3 linked regions of the Homo sapiens genome follow. The protein of the gene in region 2 interacts with the protein of the main gene of each other region in a pairwise test. Each region holds a gene or a part of one and is shown on either strand. Other genes may lie near its edges.

Evidence for each region.
Region 1: the proteins of SERINC1 (region 2) and CYP39A1 interact in a two-hybrid assay, tested with the Homo sapiens proteins (one large-scale study listed by BioGRID and IntAct).
Region 3: the proteins of SERINC1 (region 2) and MAK interact in a two-hybrid assay, tested with the Homo sapiens proteins (one large-scale study listed by BioGRID and IntAct).

The regions. Positions count from the first base shown.
Region 1 is NC_000006.12:46,649,096-46,654,729, forward strand, and holds the start of CYP39A1 (24-hydroxycholesterol 7-alpha-hydroxylase), read right to left. Parts: upstream 3,724-5,634; 5' UTR 3,488-3,723; coding exon 3,311-3,487; intron 1-3,310. Other genes in the region: SLC25A27 (mitochondrial uncoupling protein 4), read left to right, coding at 4,098-4,203. UniProt on the Homo sapiens protein: A cytochrome P450 monooxygenase involved in neural cholesterol clearance through bile acid synthesis. Catalyzes 7-alpha hydroxylation of (24S)-hydroxycholesterol, a neural oxysterol that is metabolized to bile acids in the liver.
Region 2 is NC_000006.12:122,444,635-122,448,626, forward strand, and holds part of SERINC1 (serine incorporator 1), read right to left. Parts: intron 2,632-3,992; coding exon 2,487-2,631; intron 2,371-2,486; coding exon 2,140-2,370; intron 546-2,139; coding exon 410-545; 3' UTR 1-409.
Region 3 is NC_000006.12:10,792,617-10,797,630, reverse strand, and holds part of MAK (serine/threonine-protein kinase MAK), read left to right. Parts: intron 1-1,321; coding exon 1,322-1,633; intron 1,634-5,014. UniProt on the Homo sapiens protein: Essential for the regulation of ciliary length and required for the long-term survival of photoreceptors. Phosphorylates FZR1 in a cell cycle-dependent manner. Plays a role in the transcriptional coactivation of AR.

The sequences.
Region 1 (5,634 bases), about 76 Mb from region 2:
GGTTCTAGCCATCTCAAGGCTCAACTCAGGTAGTCGTATTCACTACCCAGCTGACACGGTTGGTGGCAGAATTTAGTTTTTCACAGGCTACTGGATTGAAGACTTTTGATTTTTACTGGGGTTGGCCAGGGCCTCCCTCTATTTTTTGCCTTGTAGGCCTCTCTATAATGACAGCTTTCATCATCAAAGAGTGCAAACTAGGAAGGCAATTGAGTCTGCTATCAAGATGAAAGCCTAATCACAGAAGTAACATCAGATCACTTGTGCCATATTGTGTTCATTAGAGGTGAGTCACTAGGTTTTGTTGACACTCAAAAGGAAGTGATTACACAAGGGAATCGTTGCAAGATCATTGCAGGTTATCTTAGAAATCTGACTACCATATGTCTATCGATGAGGAAACTTATTAAATAAATGTAGCCATATCCATGCATCTTCAAAGAATTAGGAGTTCTATATGGTACTAATATGTAAAGAGTAAATCCCTACTGACATAGGAACAGTGTGAATAATATGACACATTTTGCTTATAAGGCGGAAAATAAAAATCTATAATTCTATTTGCTTGTATACAGTTAAAGAAACTATGAAACAATATATAAGAAATGAATTACAGTTGCCAAGGTTGGGAGTGAGGAGTGAGAACTGGGTGGAAGGGAAAAAGAGGTTGAAGGGACTTTCCCCGTAGTTTTTATATTTACAATTTTTTGAACCGTATAAATGCATGATCTATTCAAAGATTAAATAAAAATAATGGGAAGATGTTTTTGTGGTCACCAAAGTTGTCTCTTCTCAGTCTTCTAGAGGAGCATGAGAAGCTGAGAGTGTTAGCTAATGATGGAGTTTTAGAAGTTTTTTCTTGAAGGTTCAATACGCCATAAGTAGTGTCTTATGCAGGTGCCATTTAGATGCAATTTCGCATCAAGTCTACTGAGTACCTGTTGCAGCCACTGCGAAAACTCAGAATGGACCCCCACCCAAGATCTGGTTTGGATGTTAAGACAATTACTACATTTACACACACACACACACACACACACACACATACACACATACACACCTTGAGAGGGTATGAAGAGGTTTATTTCATACACAATGAGACTTCTCTGGGGAAAGAAGGGCAGTCCTCTCAAGCTGATCTGAAAATGACTTGAGAAAACAGTGAAAAGAGACAGGTCTTAGGGTTTCATTGTGGTTAGGGGGTAGGCTGGTGTGAGCCTTCCTGCATGAAGGTTGAGGTTTGTGTGATTTGAATCTCCCCTGGCACCAAAGGTGGGAGCACTCTGGCTTTTTTTTTTATCATACTGCCCAGATTAAGGGTACAAGAAAAGACAAGAGTGAACCTTAAAAGCTTTTAGTAGTAAAACATCAAATAATGCAGTCATATTCTTTTTTTTTTTTTTTTTTTTTTTTTTTTTTTTTTTAAGAGACAAGGTCTCGCTCTGTTGCCCAGGCTCGAGTGCAGTGGCTCAATCATAGCTTACCGGAATCTGGAACTCCTGAGCTCAAGCAATCCTCCCGCCTCAGCCTCTCGAGGAGCTGGGACTACAGGCATGTGCCACTGGACCAGATTAAATTTTTTATTTTTCTATTTAGTTTTTGTAGAAATGAGGTCTTGCTATATCTCCCGGGCTGGTCTTAAATTCCTGGCCTCAAGCAATCCTCCCACCCCTGCCTCCCAAAGTGTTGGGATTACAGGTGTGAGACACAGAGTCCAGCAATAACTTGTTTTGTTTAGTCAGGAAAGCAATAGAGACCTCACAAATATTTAGCCTTCTGACACAAGCTTGTAAAAAAACAGTTCCTTAAAAATTATCAAGATCATATGCATAAGGAAGGCTGTGGGAGACAAAGGAGTATTTCTTTAGGAGATATAATGTTTCATCTATCAGACTAGCAAAAATTGCAAAGAATTATGGTATTCAGTATGGCCCAGGATTTGAGAAGTTAGGCAATTGCATACAGTCAATGGAAAATAAAAATTGCATATTCATACTTCTTTTTCCAAAAGTAACACATTCATATAAACAATTTAAGTGTGCATGTCCTTTGACTCAGCAATTCTACTCCTAGGAATTTATTCTGAGTAAACAATCAGATAATTGCAAAATGTACAACCACACAATCAATACATGCACACAAACACGCAAGAATGTTCACTGAAGCACTGGCTGAAAGAAAAAAGTTTGGCAGCAACCTATAAACCCAACTATTGAGATTTAAGTAAACTATTGTATCCTCCTATGACAAAATATAGCCATAAAAGGAAGATTCAAAGTATTTCATGGTACAGGAAAGTCATTCACATTATATGTTAAAATCAAAAGCACATAAAAGAGTATTATACTATTATTCCATTGTTGTTCATTAAATAGTTGTAAATACATAGGAAAATGACCAAAATAATATAAATACACTAAATTTTTACAGTACAGCTGGTGTGATATTCTGGGTTATTTTTATTTTCATCTTAGTTCTCTTTAATTTTCTATATGTTTTTTACTAAATTGGAATCTCAGAGATTTTGAAGGCAAATGATCAGTGGTAAAATAATGCTACTACGTATAAATTCATTCTACAAATTGGGCTAACCAGATGGAAAATGGGTCACCACAGAAAGTATTATAATTCATAAGAATAATTATAATATCATACAAATTTATTAGACAATCAAATACCATAAAATATTTGTGACTGGAAATTGAATAAAACTTAAAAGACATTAATAAAGGTCTGTTCCTTAAAGTGCTCAGACATTTAAAAGATACTTTCAAGACAAAAACATCTACTACAAGGAGGATTACTAGTCTCTTCAGGCCGTAGTGAAAATGGAGTACATCATCATCAAATAACAACGTCAGCTAAAAATACAGAGCCTGTTTATTGTGTACGGACCAACTGTGCAAGCAATTTGTACAATACTTTGGTGTTAACTCCAATTTGGATACGAATTACTCATTTTCACAAACTTAAATTGGATTACACTTTATCTTTCCCAATTACTGAAAACATTTACTTAACACATACACATTTGGAACTTAACTTCGATGAAGTAAAAATACGAAAAGTTAATCTCTACTTCCAAAAATGTCGATGCACGCTGCAATTGTATTTCATTTCTTTCGCAAAATTTTGCACAGGATATTGTTGTTAATTGTTAGTAGAGGAATTCAGAAATGACTAGATCCTTTAGTTGAGGCAAGCAGGTATGTTCCCCGTGTTCTAGCCCTGCACTTAAGAGTCAATGAAAGAAAGTTTAAAAAAGAAAGCATTGTCTCCTCTGGAGACCCCGTCTGCCACGACCACATACCTTGATTCTTGCTTTCTCTATAAATTCTAGAGGGGCTTTCCCAAACTCAAATCCAACTCCAATCCAAGGAATCCAGCCCTTGATGCACGGGGGTCTACGCAAATTCTTCCGCTGAAGGAGTAAGAACAGAGCAAGGCAACCCAGGATTATAATCACTGTTGGGGAAATTAGTTCCATGTTTTTGTCCAGCACCTTCCAGAAGCAGAAAAGTGTGAAACAGTCCTGCCGTCCCTTGCTTCTTTTCTGTGGGCTACGGAACCTGTCGGGACTCCCAACCTTTCTGCTGCAACTTTTGCAGCTCTCCTTCGTAACTGTAGCTTCCTTCCTCTGTCCCAGTTTTCAGGTGATTTTTCCATTGTCGCTCCCTCCCACCTCCACTTCTCTTTGAATCTCAGCCAGCGCGGAAAAAATGCAAGGAGGGGCAGGGCCGGGCTAGGACTGACGGGCGAGAACCAGCCGCGTTGCCATGGAGGCCGGGGGCGGAGCCGCAGAGGGACCCGCGGCCGGCCAATCAGAGACGTAGCGGAGCCCGGCGGACTACATTGCCCAGTAACCTCCTGGGCTCCGCTGTGTTTTTCTATTCTGGGGTGTAAGGGGCAGCTGGACCACTCCAGCTGGGACTGCTAGGAAGGTTGCGGGTCCACCCGGCCGAGCCGAACGAGGGAAATGGTCCTCACCCGGCCACTCGCCGGTTGAAAAGGGGCCGCCCTGGCAGGGAAGCGGCCGCCGCGGCGCGGTGCAGCGCAGCGGCGAGAAGGAGTGCGTTATCGTCTTGCGCTACTGCTGAATGTCCGTCCCGGAGGAGGAGGAGAGGCTTTTGCCGCTGACCCAGAGATGGCCCCGAGCGAGCAAATTCCTACTGTCCGGCTGCGCGGCTACCGTGGCCGAGCTAGGTACCCGGCTGCCCACGCCTGGGCCTCCCGGGCCAGTGGCACGCGCCGCGCTGGGGGAGGGTGCGCGGGCGGCTTCGCGCCCGGCAGTGCGCATCGGAGAGGTCGCCCCTTCCATGCCCGCCTGGCAGAGGTGGCGGTGGAGGCCAGGCCCGCGGTGGGAGGAGGAGGGATTGAGGTCTCCACGGCCTTTTCCTTCTAATCTCTTCTAATGCTTCCCTTAGGCATGTGCTGTGGTGCTTGAATGTTGTACTTTAAGAAGCTTCGCGAGCTGTCATTCCTCTGTAGGAATCATTTTCCTTTTCATGAGGATGACCTTTTTAAAAACGTAATCTGTTTTCCATCCTTACTGAGATCATCTCTGTGGTTTATAGTCTTACACAGCCACACTGTCATTATCTTGTGGGTCCAAGTTGTGGACCTACCTTGTGGGACTTCCGTTATTAACCTGCCACTCACAGAGCATCGACTACTTGACCTCTTTGAGTGTAATTCATCTATACTGTTTACCTTGCAGGATTCTGAGAAGTCAATAATATATGATTGCTAAACCCAAGGCAGGACACCCATTAGTTGCGACATTTTTATAATTCCTACAATACCAGGGACTGTGGATATATATTTGAAAAGACCCAGTTCTGACCTTCTTACAGGCTGCTGGGGAGACAGAGAAAGACAATTATAATGTGCTACTTGTTATAATGAAGATATTATTAGGTGTCATAAAAGCATAGAAGAGCAGTTACATCTGCCTACATGAGTAAGAAAAAACTTTAAGAGGCCATCTAGAGTGGAATGATGATGCCCTTGAATGAGCAAGTAGCGTTTATTCCAAGGATTTTGTGAGTAGTATACTCATGTGTTTCCTGTGAAGCCTTAACTGTGTATTTTAAGATTACCCTTACATTTTCTTGCCTGTTACAAAAAAATAAAAAGAACAGTTCTGATGCGTTATCATTTGTAAATGTTAGTTGGTCCTATTTTAAGAGTTTATTTTTTAATTCTAGCATAGCCAGCCATGATCAGTTGTTTCGTGCTCTTCCATTTTTGCCTTTTAGCCCCTCTATTTTTTAATGTCTCTCCTTTCGAAAATGATGGAGAATTTTTACTTTTCATTGTTTTTACTGAAATAAAATTCATCAGCTTAAAAAGATCTAAAAGCAGATTGCTGAATGATATTTCCAGGTTTTATTTTTAATTGATGTGTCCCCCTCTGACTCAATGGCTTTTATACAGGACTATTCCTCGTTAAAAATTCATGGAGAGAATTGTGTGTGGAGAATGGATGGGAATCAAAATGTGGGATGGTTTTAAGTACAAACCACTTCAGGAACCTGAAGCATCATTTAACAAACCAGCGAGAAAACAAAACTTATTTTGAAAGACATAATCTGTGTAATATGGAGAAATCTATTAAGATTTTTCAGGTTTCAT
Region 2 (3,992 bases):
TCTTTGCAGTATCCTGCCAGGCAACACATCAAATATTTCAAAAGGCAGCCATACATTTGCTTTAATGCTTGCTAAAACAGCTTAAGGTCTAATATAATTTTAAAATAGTCAAACAAATTTGTTTTTACTCTTCATTTCACAACTATAGAGCAGAGAATAAGCCCAATAATGGCCACTTTTACTAACTCATCACCATATTCATAAAACTTTCCTCTGCAATTCATTCTACTTCACATATCAATGCACTTGGTAAGAAAATAACAAAATGACAAGCAGTAAAATCTAATTCATGCCAGAACACTGGAGAAGTTACATGGGAAGCAAAAACATACACAACTTTACAAAAGTTGGGAATACTGTTTTCAAATAAGCAATAATCAAAGTGGGACTTTCATGCTAGAAGTCTCACTCAGTCAAAATCACGATTTGTAAGAACAAGTGGTGCCACGAGTGTCCAAACATACAGCACGATGCCAATCCAACTGGAAGAGATTTTCACCCAGACAGCTGTCCACTGACTTTTCATCTCACGAGAGGGTTCATACCTAAAATTTCAGGGAAAATTATTAAAAAGGGGCAAGGGGGTTGAATTATCAGCCACCAAGCTATGAAGCTTCATTAATTCAGAAGCGTGCTTTGTATACAGTTTGTGATTTCAGATATATCATTGCTGCATCTAATCTGCTCCCTTTCTTTCCACACTGCTAGTGTGAAGGTAAAAATCTGTTATTTCCTTTAATGGAGTAAAGTATACAGGCCTCTGAAATAGTTATTTTGCATAATCTCTGAAGCACTTTATGCATGTCTGCCATGTTATTAGACAGAAGAGGAACTGAATGTGACCTCTGGATAAATGAGATGTCACTATTACATAAGATTGTTCAAGATGTATATGGAACTCCTCACCTGATTTCCACTCCCCCAACCCCCTCCCCCGCCCCTCCCTTCTCAGAATTAAGAGACTGGTATGACTCAGAGATATCTCCTTAAAAAAAGAAAGAATTAAGAGACTGGGAAGGAAATATATCTCAAGTTTAAGTGATTTTTGAGTTAATGAAATATACCAAAATCCTTCTGGTATAAAGCCTTAATATCTACTATTATGTGACAGCCAAGGATCTGAGTTAAGAACCAGCTGGTACTCGGGAGGCTGAGGCAGGAGAATGGCGTGAACCTGGGAGACAGCTTGCAGTGAGCTGAGATCAAGCCACTGCACTCCAGCCTGGGTGACAGAGCAAGACTCCATTTCAAAAAAAAAAAAAAAAAGAACCAGCTGGATTCTTATAGCTTAATACGCTACAGTGTAAGAATTAAAAAATATATATACTTTTCAATAATAAAAATCAGTAAAGGCTGCACTCAAAGACATACAACAAAGAATAATCTTTTTCCTCCATCTTTTGCTGATACTGAGAGCCGCCTTACAATTTGTTTATTAATATTATGCATTAAAAAGTTATTAAAAACAGAACTTCCCAAACCACATAGTTCAATTTGAATCTTTGACCAAATCTTTCAGTAATCATTTGGACAAAACCAGAACTTTCAAAAATGAAACACTATAAATCACTATCTTCCTTTTAACAGAAAAAGATTTATGGATTAAGTTTGAAGTGATTAAAAAAAAAAGTAGCTTGTAAGAATTCTAAGCTTGTAGAATTTGTAGAAATTGTTGCTTGTAGAAAGAATTCTAAGCTTGTAAAAATTGTGGCTTGTAAGAATTCTAAGAATCTATCTACATTAATGAATTCATACTTAAATTTAAAAATTTTCAGAGCTTTTAATGACAGTTCAAACAAAAGAGAAAAAAGGATGTATCCTTTACTTCACTATCTTTACAGAATTGAAAAAAAAAATGTTAGATCCACTATCAACATGGATTTTTGTAAAAAGTATTAGTTTCATGAAAATTTTTATTTTAATCTCTCCAAGATTTGGAACTATTTCAATGTTTGTGTTACTGTTAAAGCAAGGAAGTAAAGACTGCATTTCTCATGCTGATCTCACTATTCATTTAGCTGTACATTTTGAAATATATCAGAGGATAAAAAGTACTTCATATCACATCATGGTTTCACAAGAGAATCATAAAATGCCATCAGAATTCACACATCCAGAGTTTTCATGAAATATAAATACCTGTACCAGTTGGTAAGGGTCATCATGATATAAAGTGAAGCCAGGAAAAGCATGAAGTGAAAGAAGGAATAACTGTAAGTGACACCATCCCTTTCATTATCTACAGCTCGGTGAACATCGTCCCCATCCTCCAGTGATCCATCACTTCTAGCTCCACCATCTTCTATTAATGTAGATTCATCACTTGTTAGAGTCAGTTTATTAACCTGACTATTGTTTGAAGTACGGATGCTGTATGAAAGAGAGTTTAGGAGGAGAGAAAAAAAAGAACATTTTTAAAAGAAATGATTCATAAATAAACAGCTAGACTTCTTGTTTAAAGAAAAAAATTCCATAGTTTTTCCTACCTGGAATAAAATACACACAACAAAAAGAGAATTAGTCCTATAATTCCTTGAGCATGCCACCACTGGACTGACTGCCCTTCCTTTGGGACAGTGCTTGTTGTATTGTAGCCAATTATGCTTAGTAGACTTGGGTTGCAATTTGTTTCTGTAATATAAAGCCAAATTAAAATGTTAGAATATATTAAAAAGATGTTTTTCAGAGCAAACAAAAGTTATTTTTAACTCTCTATACCCCTGCAAATTGAGAAACAATTGCTGGAAAAGGCATCAGTATAACAAAAATAATTGAAGAAAACTTGCACTTATTAATAAGACCTTTGAAGTGTTAATAGTTCTGATTTTATAGAAGTACCTGGAAAAGTTAAATCATTTAATTTTCAACAACATGTGATAGCTGAGAGATAATTACCTCTACAATCAGGAAAGAGGTGAAATATAGATGAACTTTCTAAGGTTAGTATAATTCTAGTAGATTTAGAAAGAAAATTCAGAGATTATAAACCACAATGCACTGGCTTTTCTATCATATGTTGAGATTATGATACAGACTTTATGAAGCTTATCAATTTGATACAGCACATTGTTAAAAAACCAAGACAGCTTACACAAAAACCAGTTATAAGGACTCCAGCAAATGCCTCATGGAAATTACCCAATAAAGTATAATGACCTACTGCTTACTCAAGTCTTATTCTTTTATAAAGAAGAAAGTAGGCAAGGTGCGGTGGCTCATGCCTGTAATCCCAGCACTTTGGGAGGCCGAGGCGGGCGGATCACAAGGTCAAGAGATAGAGATCATCCTGGCCAACATGGTGAAACCGCTTCTCTACTAAAAATACAAAAATCAGCTGGGCGTGGTGGCATGTGCCTGTAGTCCCAGCTACTCGGGAGGCTGAGGCAGAAAGACTCGAACCCGGGAGGCGGTTGCAGTGAGCCGAGATCATGCCACTGCATTCCAGCCTAACGACAGAGCGAGACTCTGTCTCAAAAAAAAAAAAAAAAAGTAGGATTGCTAAAATATTCACTAAAGTGTCTAAAATACATATTTTTCTCCTGCAAAGCCAGATCTGTCAAACTCCATCTTACTAATGAAAATGATTCTTACCTTAAAGCCAATTAGGTAAGGCTATTTCCTTCTCTAAAGCAAACTACTAATAATTTTTTTCTAACCACCTACCTGGAAAAAAACAGGAAATCTTTGTGTAATACATCAAAACAAAAAAACAAAAAATAAATTGGTCTCCAAGTTATAAAGTACCTATGATAAAATACCTACAGTTTGTAAACTCAATGAGATTCATATAACATCAGATAAATTTTTTAGGAAAAGAGATCATTTTCTTCTTTTTAATAGGTAATAATTTTTGTCTATTCTAATTTGTCTCCTTTCAACATATGTTTCTATTCTCATGGTATGCAATATAACTAGCCTATAATAAGATGCATTACAAAGCCCAATTATCAAATTCAATTGTAAGGTAGTCACAGGCTAAAAGAGTAATTTAA
Region 3 (5,014 bases), about 110 Mb from region 2:
AGCTACTTTGCCCAGGTATTTGATGCCAATAAGGGAATTTTTCCATAGCTGAGCTACACAGGCTTTAGACATTCTGTAGAATATTTTTTCGGTTTTAGCCTTACTGACGTTGTGAACCAGATAACTCTTTGCTGTGGGGTGCTATTGTGTGCATTATGGGATAGTTAGCAATGTCCCTGGCCCTCTAGACACTAGACACTAGTAGCGTCCCCCAACCCCTGTCATTATAATAAGAAATGTCTCCAGACATTGCCAGATATCTCCCAAGGGGCAAACTTGCCTCCATTTGGGAAGCACTGCTATTAGATGGTGCCACCCATACACCAGGGGGTCCTTTCCCTCTCATGCAAGCAGTCAGGTGACTGATCTAGATAAAACTCAAACAGTGATCATTTTTCATAATATTTTTATATTTTCTTCCCATAAATGTCTTCTCTTTGCTGGTATACCGATGAAATAAACTTCAACAGTATGTGTTTGTTGTCCCCTCTTTAGATTTTTTTTTTATTACTAGTAGGTATATTGTTGTACTCAGGCTGAGAGTAACCCGGAATTTTACATACAGCTCTGGTTAATCATTTCAAATAATCTATATGGAAGATTTTCTTAATTCACTTTTTAATGTCTTTGAGTGTACTCTAAACCATTATTGGTGTGTAGTATTTTAGCTTGAAGTAATCACATTAATTTAGCCAATGTCTATAAATTACATTTTATTTTCACTAACAAATCTTTAAATAAATAGAACAGCTGTTTTGCTTAGATGTTATAATAACAAGTGAGCTTTCTATTTTTTCCTACTAGTACTTTTTTTTTTTTTTTTTTGAGGTGGAGTCTCGCTGTGTTGCCTAGGTTGAAGTGCAGTGGCACAATCTTGGCTCACTACAATCTCCTCCTCCCAGGTTCAAGCGATTCTCATGCCTCACCCTCCCGTATAACTGGGGTTACAGGCATCCACCAACACGCCTGGCTAATTTTTGTATTTTTAGTAGAGACTGGGTTTCACCATGTTGGTCGGGCTGGTCTTGAACTCCTGACCGCAAGTGATCCTCCCACCTCATCCTCCCAAAGTGCTAGGATTATAGGCGTGAGCCACCATGCCCAGCCACTTTTAATTTTTTAATGCAATTTATTTCTCAAATCATTTTTTTCTGGTTATCTTTTAAAAGAGGCACTGTATAGGGAATGATGGCTGCTTTCTAAATCTTTGAAGCTCATGTGGGCTAATGATAAATGCCTCGCACAGGGCCAACCATAGTTTATGTGCAATACATTTAGGTGGAACTGTTTTCCATTTGTTGTTTTCTCTGTGTTTTTATAGGCATTGAAACACCCATATTTTCAAGTTGGTCAGGTATTAGGCCCTTCGTCAAATCATCTGGAATCAAAACAGTCTTTAAATAAGCAGCTGCAACCATTAGAATCAAAGCCATCTTTAGTTGAGGTAGAGCCTAAGCCTCTGCCGGATATAATCGATCAGGTTGTTGGACAACCCCAGCCAAAAACTAGCCAGCAGCCACTGCAGCCCATTCAGCCGCCACAGAACCTGAGCGTCCAGCAACCTCCAAAGCAACAGAGTCAGGAGAAACCGCCACAAACGCTATTCCCGAGCATCGTCAAAAACATGCCAACTGTGAGTAGCCAGTCATGACACTTGCAATGAAATAGTTTGACTCGTGCAATTAAGATTTTTTTCGAGGCATTTCTAATAATGTTGGAAAAGATATAAAAGATTTTTCTTTGTTAAAGACCCTGAGTCCTCTGGTTGGAGCTTGACATGAGATCACTTAAAATTCTAATATGGTTTATAAAAAGAAAAACTTTCAGGATAAAAGTAACCAAGTTTACATGCTACAGTCTTCAGTCTTTTTTCTTTTTCTTTTTTTGAGACGGAGGTTCGCTTTTGTTGCCTAGGCTGGAGTGCAGTGGCACGACCTTAGCTCACTGCAATCTCTGACTCCTGGGTTCAAGCGATTCTCCTGCCTCAGCCTCCCAAGTAGCTGGGATTACAGACGCCCACCACCACGCCTGGATATTTTTTTGTATTTTTAGTAGAGATGGGGTTTCACCATGTTGTCCAGGCTGGTCTTGAGTTCCTGACTGCAAGTGATACACCCGCCTTGGCCTCCCAAAGTTCTGGGATTACAGGCATGAGCCACTGCACCTGGGCTTTTCTTTTTTATTTCTTGAGACGGAGTTTCACTCTATTTGCCCAGGCTGGAGTGCAATGGCACGATCTTGGCTCACTGCAACCTCCACCTCCCAGGTTCAAGCAGTTCTCTTGCCTCAGCTTCCTGAGTGGCTGGGATTATAGGCACCCACCACCACACCCAGCTAATTTTTGTATTTTTAGTGGAGACCATGTTGGCCAGGCTGGTCTCGAACTCCTGACCTCAGATGATCCACCCATCTCGGCCTCCCAAAGTGCTGGGATTACAGGCGTGAGCCACCAAGCCCGGCCTAAAATTCTTTCAATGCAGAAGAATTCAAAGAAAGAATTTAAAAGAATCGGGTACTCCAGAGTACTGATCCTAAATCTTAAGAATTTTTAACAGTACTTTCATTTTACAGTGTTCTTAAATGCTAAGGAACATGGAGAGAATGGGTTTTTATTTATTATTATTATTATTATTATTTTGAGACAGAGTTTTGCTCTTGTTGCCCAGGCTGGAGTGCAATGGTGTGATCTCAGCTCACCACAACCTCCACCTCCCAGGTTCAAGCAATCCTCCTGCCTCAGCCTCCTGAGTAGCTCGGATTACAGGCATGTGCCACCATGCCCAGCTAATTTTGTATTTTTAGTAGAGATGGGGTTTCTCCATGTTGGTCCGGCTGGTCTTGAACTCCTGACCTCAGGTGATCCACCCTCCTTGGCCTCCCAAAGTGCTTGGATTACAGGCCTGAGCCACCGCACCTGGCCAGAATAGGTTTTTAAAGTGTCAGGCATAGTATAAAACTTTTTCTTCCATCTTTTGTTCAGCTCCAGGAGCTCTTCAGTTGCTGTAGTATTTTAGCTGTCCCACTGGGTATACACTCCCAAATGTGTTTGCATTATGGCATTTTAGGATGGAAATCGGTCTTATACAGCACTGTATCTATTTCCTTCCAGTCCCCAACTGCCCCACCAACCTAGATAAGCAAGGCCTCCTCGTCCCCCAATAGCACTAATCACATTCTAACATACTGTTAATTACTTCTTATGTTTATTGTTTATTTGTCTCTTCCTCTGGAATGCAGCAAGCTCAGTGAGGTCAGGAATGTTTGTGTGTTTATCAGTACAGCCTCAGCACCCCGACCAGTGCCTGCCACATGGTAGATTCTCAGTAGATATTTGTTCAGTGAATGAAGGAATGAATAATTGCCCACATGACTTGTAAACCACCTCTGGGGTCCTGGGGAGTCCACTTTTATCTTTGGAACAGTTCTGAATATTAGAAAGTTCTTCCTTAATACTGGGTAAAATCTGGTTTTCTAGCTTTTAATGAAGGCTAATCACTTTTCTAGAAAGGCAGCCTTTTAGATATTTGAAAATAGCCCTTATATTATCTGCCCTTTTCTCTAGAGAAACTTCTCCAATTCCCTTAAGGGCTCTGCATATAACACCATTCACCAATGACTGATAACTCTCAGTTCCTATTATGAATGTGTCTTTAAGTCCCCTCTCATCTTGCTTTCCACTTAGAATGAGGTTGCCAGAGCTAGAGGCAGACAGCAGGCAGGGAATATAGAGCAGGGCGAATCACCTCCGACATTCTAAACCATATGTGCACTCGTGCCACCAACGATGACAGTCCTCCCCATGACCCCTTGGAAGATGCATCAATTGTTGACTCATATTGTGAGGGAAGGAAAGGAAGTTAATATTTATTGAGTAGCTTCCAAGTGCCATGCATATGCGAGGGACGCTGTGTGCATTCTCTAAGTTAAAGAGAATAACCTAGCCCCCAGCCCCGCCACACACACATTTTTATATAGGTGAGTTCCAGAGCTGGGATTAAGTACTGTGTTAACTAAAATTTCTAAGTATACCTGTTTTTTCACAAATGCTTCTCCTAAATTGCATATTCTGTACCTCTGACTTGTGTATTTCATCTCTAGGATTCAAAAAGTTGCAAGATCTCTTACCTCTTCAATTTCTAATTATTTTTGAATCTGTATTTTTTCTTCTCAGTTTACCCATTCTGCCCAGCTTGTTGCCAGCTGTGTATTTGTTTAGTTGTCTGTTTTGCTCCTGAATCTTCATGATGAATAGAACGACCGTGAGATCTTGGGCAGGCTACTAGAACCTTTCTCTAGATTGACGTTGATCCATTTGTCAGTACTGTTGGTCAAGTTCTTCAACTATGTGCTGATCCCCTTTGCTGCCTTCACCCACTGGGCTGAAGTCCACATACACTACACTGAATGAATTCATTGTTTGCCTTTTATGAAAAAGTGTGGTCTATATGAGCTATCACTGTTTTTCCTTAGTGCTCACAAACATCCCCTTTAATAATTGATTTTAGAATCTTTGCCCTCATCCTCTACCAAACTTACTGATGTGGAGTTTGCAAAAATAAATCTTCTACTTTATTAAAAGTATTATATTTGCCCCTTTCCAGTCTTCTCAGCCATACCAGATTCTTGCATATCACTGATATTGTTCAGCAGTGTTCAGGATCAGTACCCTAAAATACAATTCAACAGAAGGGAGGCTCAAACTCAGCTAAGGGTAACCTTTTATTAACCCTACTCATCTGGAGCTTAACATTTTTTTTATTCTCTTTATTCTGGAGATTGTTGTGCCTGGCAGAGAAAGTAATAGTGTAGAGAAGCTGGCAAATACTGCTTTTTGTTATCATCCATCACTATCACTGTAATACCGTCAGCTTCAAGCAATAGCATGTCCATTCTTTAAGAATCTCCCTGCACCCAACATAGGTGTATTTTCTGAAAATTTTCCATGCTCTCTTCCCTAGTTTTGAGTTGCCTTTTGGATTTTTCTGTTTATGTGCCCCCAAACCACTTTCTGTAA